3 separate regions of the Homo sapiens genome follow, and regions 1 and 3 are each linked to region 2. The links come from fine-mapping of genetic effects on gene expression. A gene starts in region 2. Each other region holds a variant in brackets. All regions are shown on one strand. Distances are from middle to middle.

The links. PIP is the estimated chance that this variant, and not a neighbour inherited with it, causes the effect. A credible set is the group of variants that fine-mapping cannot tell apart.
Region 1: its variant is the best candidate, but not a certain one, in a credible set for the expression of NUP42 in whole blood (TOPMed, PIP 0.83).
Region 3: its variant is the best candidate, but not a certain one, in a credible set for the expression of NUP42 in whole blood (INTERVAL, PIP 0.63).

Annotation. Positions count from the first base shown.
Region 1 is chr7:23,212,616-23,215,376 of GRCh38, forward strand. LOC101927890 (a long non-coding RNA gene) reads left to right here and starts at 1,460. Exons shown (of 2, transcript XR_242147.3): 1 at 1,460-1,555. The variant A/G (reference allele first, on the strand shown) is at 1,604.
Region 2 is chr7:23,180,601-23,183,361 of GRCh38, forward strand. NUP42 (nucleoporin 42) reads left to right here and starts at 1,448. Exons shown (of 7, transcript NM_007342.3): 1 at 1,448-1,606. The coding sequence starts at 1,486. RefSeq lists enhancers at 1,043-1,642, 1,743-1,812.
Region 3 is chr7:23,204,479-23,207,239 of GRCh38, forward strand. No RefSeq gene overlaps it. Among named protein-coding and RNA genes, the nearest start is that of NUP42, 24 kb to the left of the region's middle. RefSeq lists a silencer at 1,486-1,765 and an enhancer at 1,956-2,015. The variant C/G (reference allele first, on the strand shown) is at 1,154.

The DNA of each region.
Region 1 (2,761 bases), 32 kb after region 2:
TCTATAACCTGTGTGAACCTCTCACATTGGTCCTTCAGGCTGAGGTCACCAGCAGCAGCTTCCCTGACCTCCACTCTTTCAGCCTTTCCAATAACTCCCTACAGTAAAAGTCTCCTAAATGGAATACACAGAGGCTCTTCTGATATCCTGATCCAACCGTGATACAGAGATCTACCTTGCTCGTTTTAACAGCTGAATAGTATCCCAGTGCCTAACTGTCTTATAATGAATTTAACTTCTCCCTTAATGATGGACACTTGGGTTTTTCTAGCAATTTACTAACACAATTAATGTCAGGATGAACTTTCTTTCTTGCACACACATACACACATACAAGTTCTTTATTTGCCACCCTCAAGCACATGACTGCTGAATTGTGCTTTAAAGAACTTTCCATCACACCACGAACATGTCACATTGTTAGGTTCGTGTGATCACTATGAGGAAGAGGAGGGGGAGGGGACCATGGAGGCCGTAATGTCTAGACTCTTTCTTCCCTGTCTTCAGTTCACCAAATGTAGTTCAACTGTGGACAAAGGGGCTCTTTGAAGCGTCCTCTAAATGTTTAAAATTTTGTTTTTAGAGATAGGATCTTGTTTTGTTGCCCAAGCTGGTCTTGAACTCCTAGCATCAAGCATTCCTCCCATTTCATCCTCCCAAAGTGCTGAGATTACAGGCATGAGCCACCACACCAGGCCTATATTTATTTATTTATTAGTTTTTTGAAATACAGTCTCTGTCACCCAGGCTGGAGTACAGTGGCACAATCTCAGCTCACTGCAACCTCCTTCTCCCAGGTTCAAGCCATTCTCCTGCCTCAACCTCCCGAGTAGCTGGGACTATAGGTGTATGCCACCACGCCCGGCTAATTTTTGTACTCTTAGTAGAGACCGAGTTTTGCCATGTTGGCCAGGCTGGTCCTGAACTCCTGACCTCAAGTGATCTGCCTGCCTTGGCCTCCTAAAGTGCTGACATTACCGGCGTGAGGGATTACCGGTGTGAGCCACCATGCCCTGCCCCTAAATTTATTTTTTAATTGTCAAGTTGTTACCAGCAGTGAATCCATACAGGTCTGCAACAACCTCAGTTCTTGCCTCCTCAGAAGAAAGAATTCGACCAAGGGGGCATAAGGTAGAGTGAGAGACCAAGGCAAGTTTTACAACAGTAGTGAAAGTTTATTAAAAAGTTTTATGGCGGGAATGAAAGAAAGTGAAGTACACTTGGAAGAGGGCCAAGCGGACAACTTGAGAGAGTCAAGTGTGCTGTTTGACCTTTGACTTGGGGTTTTATATGTTGGTATGCTTCTGGGGGTTGCATCTCTTCTCCCCTGATCCTTCCCTTAGGTTGGGCTGTCCGCATGCGTGGTGGTCGGCCAGCACCTGGGCGGGGGGAAGCATGCGCAGTATGTTTACTGAGGTTGTACGCATGCTCACTTGAGGCGTTCTTCCCTTACCAGCGCAGTGCTACCAGAGGAAGCTAAACCAGTTAAACTACGCCATTTTGCCTCTTAGTGGGCATGCTTGAGTCCACTCACCCAACTCCTGATATCTTATTCGTAAGTTGCTAATCACCAATTTCAGATGTTTCTATTTATTGGGAGACA[A/G]CCTTTCCCTGGCACTGCGACCAATTATTATTTTAGAGAGACAGCTTAACAACCGCTTGACCATCACCTGATGGTCCCCTGACATTCCTGGTGGGGGCAGGGGGCCTCTCCTGTTCCTGGGGCAGGCGCAGCACTCTCTTAGCTCTACCCTGTAGCCCCTGCTTCCACCATAACAGTTCACAAAGAACTGGCAAACCCTTGAAATTTCCAATTTCCCTTCTTTTGCCATTTTCTGTAGGCTGCTATGATTCAAGCCAGAGAAAGCTGCCGCCTCAGCCCCCACCTCCATCGCCGCGGGGGTGAGGCCCCAGATACCTGCCTGGCTTCTTCAGCTCTCCCCTTGGCTCCTAGCTTTGTGCTGAATGGTCCTGCCTTCCCACAATGCCCTTATCTCACCAAATCTTCACCCTGAAGCCATGAATTAGAGCTTCTAGCTGACTAAATGCAGTATCTCTCAGAAATCTGTCATGTGTCCTTTCTGCTTCTCGTGCCCAATTAACTAATTAGCATCATTTTACAAACTTCTCTGGGCTAGCCCTAGAGCTCAGCTCTAACACCACCCAGGTCTCCAGGTAAAGCCTGGCTATACCTCCTATCCTTGTTTTGTTGCTGATAAATAAGCTTTTTATTGATCTTGCAGAAAAATTATTTTTCTAATTTTTTTCTCTTTTGCCTTTCTATCTTGAGTTGTGCCATGACAAAACACCACCAACCCCATTTTCCAAACCTTACATAGAGGTTCTCTTCCCCCTTCTCCCTGTGTGCCCAGCATGGTGTGAAAACACAGCCTGAAAATATTCTCTCCAGCTTCTTCTGTCAGGTTCCCCACCCTTCTCCATCAGCATTCTTAACGCCACAGGGATTCCTTCCAGCCCACTTTGGAGTACAGTTTCCCTCAGGCCACAACATTTACTGTTATTTTATGAATAAAACTTTATTTTACTGGCGGTTGGTAAACTGAACGAACAAGTACTATTTATAAAATAAATACAGAACATGATACAACAGCCAGCATTTTTTCTTTTTTTCTTTTTTTTTTTTTTTTTTTTTGAGATGGAGTTTCACTCTTGTTGCCCAGGCTGGAGTGCAATGGCGCGATCTCGGCTCACTGCAACCTCCGCCTCCTGGGTTCAAGCGATTCTCCTGCCTCAGCCTCCC
Region 2 (2,761 bases):
TTGTTTCAAAATAAATGAATTGCATTGATTAAAGAAAATAAAAAACTAGTTTGGACAAGTAGTTCCCGTCCTGTAGATTCTGCTGTCTTCAAAATCCAAACAAATTACATGAGCAAGAATGATGGCTCACTCCCAGCTCAATAATCCTAAAACCACCAGCACAAACCTGTAATCCAACAAAGTCAGATCTATTGACTTATTGCAATCAAGAAGACTGCACACCAGAGGAGCTGTGGTGTGTCTCACCGTACAAAATAAAAGGTAGTTATTGTATGTTTTGGCGGGGAGAGTGAAGTTTAGGTGAAATTTAAATGAAATCTCAAAGCATAGCTGTGTGTAAAGGCATTAACATCAGGTCTGGACGAGAATTGAATGTAGGGCATGTTTCCTTGGAAACTGCAAAGTTAAGAAAATACAGAATGTTTTCAGAACCGTTTATCTGAAGCTCTACACCTGGATAGAAATTGAGGCTGCTTCTCTGCGTCAAAGAGACTTAGATCCTCCAGGCAAGGATGGGACTTTTCACTCGTTCTGATATAATTTCAAATAGCAACGTTTATGTGGACTTGAAAGAACAAGGTTTCGGCCAGACGCGGTGGCTCACACCTGTAATCGCAGCACTTTGGGAGGCGGACGCGGGCGGATCACGAGGTCAGAAAATAGAGACCATCCTGGCTAACACGGTGAAACCGTGTCTACTAAAAATACAAAAAAATTAGCCGGGCGTGGTGGCGGGCACCTGTAGTCCCAGCTACTCGGGAGGCTGAGGCACGAGAACGGCATGAACCTTGGAGGCAGAGCTTGCCTCCAAGCTCTGCCACTGTACTCCAGCCTGGGCGACAGAGCGAGACTCCGTCTCAAAAAAAAAAAAAAAAAAGAAGAAATAACAAGGTTTCTCAGTGTGTAGTAAGAATGTACTTAAGTGGTAATACTTTTCCGTTGCAGCATGTCCTAAAAGAAACATTGTTTCCTCTTAACGTCGTCTGGCTTTATTTGACTCTGTTATCCATCCAGATGAAAGGCTAGGCAGTTTGTTACTTTCTCAGCCCAAGCTAAGTTTTACCGTCTCAGCAAGAACGACTCAGTCTCTCAAATCATAGCTAATTCTCCTCTGAGGGCCTTGCTGAAGTTCTGCGTTTGCTTGCTCCGCTTTCCTCTCATTTTGGACCTCCAGCCTTCCTGTAGTCCGAGGCCCTGCACCGGGGTCAAACGCGCCTCCGGTCTTCACGTAACCGTTCAAGCATCCCTCCTTCCCAGGACACACTCAAAGCGTCAGAGCGGTCCGCTCTTCTCAAGTCCTATTGGCTCAAGTCCATGCGTCTCATGGCACTGCCGGGTGAGAGGCGGAAAAAGGCCTTCCCAGGCGCGAGAAGATGACGTCACAGTAGCCCGGCCGGGCGCCGAGGTTGCCTTAGGGCTCTCTGCCCAGTAACAGGCATCGAACGGTGCAGACTGAAGACGCCCTCCGTCAGCGACGCCGTCGCAATGGCCATTTGTCAATTCTTCCTTCAAGGCCGGTGCCGCTTTGGAGATCGGTGCTGGAACGAACATCCCGGTGCTAGGGGTGCAGGAGGAGGACGGCAGCAACCGCAGCAGCAGCCTTCAGGTGACTCTCCTCTGAATCCTCCGCGGTAACCGAGCCGGGAAGGGTCCGCCGGCGGGGACCGGGCGTCCCGCGTGTTTCCCGCTGCTGGTGACCCCAACGTGCCCGCGTCGCGGCCTTGCCGGCCCTACTGGGCCCTGCACAACGTTTTTAAACCGAGGGTTTTATCTACATATTATTCATGTGGTCCGTTTTTATTGAGCTTCTGAGGACCTGGGTTTGGGCCTGGATGCTTGTGCGAAACTGAGTTTTTAAATCGGAAGTACCTATCGAAACTACCTTGTAGGTAAATGCCGGAATTGAATATAATTTTTACTAAGTTGTTTTTTCGAGGGTGAGGCTAGCAGCTTGGGTCAGAATCAGGACTTCATTTTGGAGAAGTCGTGGACTTCTTTGAAAAAATCTAATAAAACCGGCCGGGCGGTGGCTCACGCCTGTAATCCCAGCACTTTGGGAGGCCGAGGCGGGCGGATCACGAGGTCAGGAGTTTGAGACCAGCCTGACCAACATAGTGAAACACCGTCTTTACTAAAAATACCAAAAAAAAAAAAAAAAAAAAAAATAGCCGGGCGTGGTGGCGCGCGCCTGTAATCCCAGCTACTCATGAGGCTGAGACAGGAGAATCGCTTGAACCCGGGAGGTGGAGGTTGCAGTGGGCCGAGATCGTGCCACTGCACTCCAGCCTGGGCGACAGAGCGAGACTATCAAAAAAAAAAAAAGAAAGAAAGAAAAGAAAAAAAGAAAATCTAATAAAACCTATAGAGCCATACCGCAAAAATGCACCTGCTCATAAATTTGGGGTGAAATTGGGAATGTGGGACGCCCAGTTAAGGGCTATCCGGGAGGTGAGGAAAGGAGATGCGGGGGCCACGTTGATCTAGTCCCTGGGCCTAGATCATTGTCAAAGCTTTTTATCTTCAAGGAAAGGAGAGATTAGACATGAAACCTTAGAACAACACAAGATTTTTAAAGATCGGGTTAATAATTCGGTGCTGTCTCCCTTCCTTCCCCTCCTTTAGGGCTATTCATCTGACCTTTATTTTTTTATTTTATTTTGAGACGGAGTCTTGCTCTCTCAGTCAGGCGGCTCACTGCGACCTCCGCCTCCCAGGCTCAAGCGATTCTTATGCCTCAGTCTCCCGAGTAGCTGGGATTACG
Region 3 (2,761 bases), 24 kb after region 2:
AAACAACCACCAAAAAGGGGGAAGGTACAGAATAGTATGTATGATATACCATTTAAAGTACAAAAGAGCAAAACAATACTGTAGTATTATGTATGGATTCATAAACACAGGAATAATAGCATGTGGATAATAAGCACTGATATGAGTTGGCTGTGTCCCCACCCAAAATCTCATCTTGAATTGTAATAATCCCCATGTGTCAAGGGCAGGACCACGTGGAGACAATTGAATCATGGAGCTGGTTTCCCTCATTCTGTTCCCACGATAGTGAGTTCTCATGAGATCTGATGGTTTAGGGGCTTCCCCCTTTCCTGGGCTCTTATTCTCTCTGCTGCCGCCATGTGAAGAAGGATGTGTTTGCGTCTCCTTCTGCCATGATTGTTAAGTTTTCTGAGGCCTCCCCAGCCATGCAAAACTGTGAGTCAATTAAACCTCTTTTCTTTATAAATCACCCAGTCTTTATTAGCAGTGTGAGAATGGACTAATACAAGCACCAAATTCAGAACAGTGTTTACCTAGGGAAAGAAAAAAAGAAATGGGATCTGAAAGGCACAGACAGGGAGCTTTATATGTGACTTAAAAAAAAAAAAAAGCTTAATATGAGAAGCATAAAATTTGACAGAGCTGGGCATGATGGCACAAACCTGTAGTCCCAGCTACTTGGGAGGCTGAGGCAGGAGGATCATTTTGGCCCAGGAGGTCAAGGCTGCAGTGAGCCATGATCACACCACTGCACTCCAGCCTGCATGACAGAGTGAGTCGCTGTCTCAAAAAAAAATTTTTTTTTAATTGACACTGGGTGATGAGTAGTACATAGTAATACGCTGTTGTTTTCTATACTTTCCCACATGCTTGAAATAAGTCTGCAAACTTTTAAATATTTGATTTAGGGGGAAAATGCCTTTTTCCCCACCCTAAATTGTGTATTATCAAGTCACTTTCAGATTTCTGCAGTGATCACTGTGAATCCACTGGTTTGCCAAATGGTGTCCAAGCCTGTTGGATTAAATATGTCATGCTGATGAGGCTTGTCATTCAAACACTGAAGCACAGGAGTAAAACTAGAGAACTGACTGTAGAGGTGGAAAATGTAATTTTTGCTATCAGACTAACGAAATATAAAAGGTACACATTTGTGGAACAAAATAAAAAT[C/G]TTTGATTCACTAGTTGTGTGTTTGTTTCTCTAATTACACTGGACGAGGAAAATAATCTAGAATCAACATATTAAGTAGTTACCTTGAGGCTCTTTTCTCAACCACACATCATCAACCACCTGGAAATCTGTTCCTTTTTCCTGGTTATTTACAATGCAAGCAGCTTTTAGCCCTGGCAGCACAGAAGCAGAAGAATTGAGGAATTCTCTGCCACTCCTGTAGTATCCTTTAACAGGTTAAGTGGTTGTCAAGCTTCTTTTTTAAATTTGTAAACCTATTTGAATCAATTTGTGACTCCTGCATTCCGGCCCGGCAGAAAGAGCTCGAAGAGACGCAGAGCGCGGCGCGCTCCCCCACGGCCCTCCAGGCCGGCGGGTGAGATGGGGAGATGAGCTAGGGGGCCCCGGACTGGCTGCGCCCTCTGCCCTGCAGACACGGGGGGCCCCGCTGTGGCTGCCCACTGGCCGGGCGCAGGCCTCGAAGCCGCGGCGAACCTCTCTTCCCCACCCCACCTCGGTGACTGTTGGCGGCGGCTCTCCCTGCCCAGACCCCGCCGCCGGATCCTGCCCGGCCTCGACGAAACCCCGCCGAGCCGCCGAGACGCAGTGTCTCCGGGTGGCGGCGGGAGAGGCGGGCCGGGAAGCATGGCGGCCGCCCCAACACCGCGCGGCGGAGACCGTTAGGGTGTGCAGGGCCCGGGAAGGCGGTCTCGCGACGCAGGCAAGCTCGGCCGCCTCTTTAGGCCACGGAGCCGCGCGAGTCCGGGCCCGGGTGACCGCTCTGTTCCCACTGGACGAGACCTGCCGAGTCCTCAGGACAACGGACAAAGGCCTTAACGGGCTTGGGAGGTGAGCGAAGTCCCGAACGATGACGGGTGGAACAGTTAGCGGCCTTCGGGCGGTTGGTCTCGTTCTACCAGAGCTTGCTGTCGGAAGAGAGAAATGGTGGAATGACAAGCCACGTCTGGCCTCTTGGAAATGCCCACCACCCTTTGGGAAGATTTACTGGCCGTTTATGGAAGGCCTGTGTATTTAATATGAAACAGCTGCTCTCAACACTACCCAAACCTTTTAATAGAAAACATTTGCCACATCTAGCCCTTCTATGAGCTAGATGGAAAGAGGTTGCTGATGTATGATAAAGTTAGAAAATCACACATCTTGTAAATTCTCATTTGCTTAAAAGAAATCATAGAAAATAAATGTCTTCTGGAGACGACTTTTGGAAATGGAGTTGTTAACACGGCCTCTGGAAGCGAGACGTCCACGTTTGTTAAGTGGTTTAGAGGACATGGAGCTGGAAGACCTGAGAAGGAAGAGAAGAAGCTTCTGTGCCAGACTGGTCATATTTAGAAGACATTTTCATATTCTCTCCATTGTTTTGTGTGCATTTCATTCCTCACTACTGTGTATATGGTTGACAATGCTAAGCTTTTTTGAAATGTCTATTCTTTTTAGATATTCTGAAGTGCCTGATATATGTAGAAAAAAATAACCTTTTGTAAATATCTTTTTGTTACAATTCATATGAAATGTTTGGTGGGGGAATGGCCCAATCACCTGTTGAGTAATACTCATTGTGTTTGTGCACTGGTTCAGGGGAGGAGG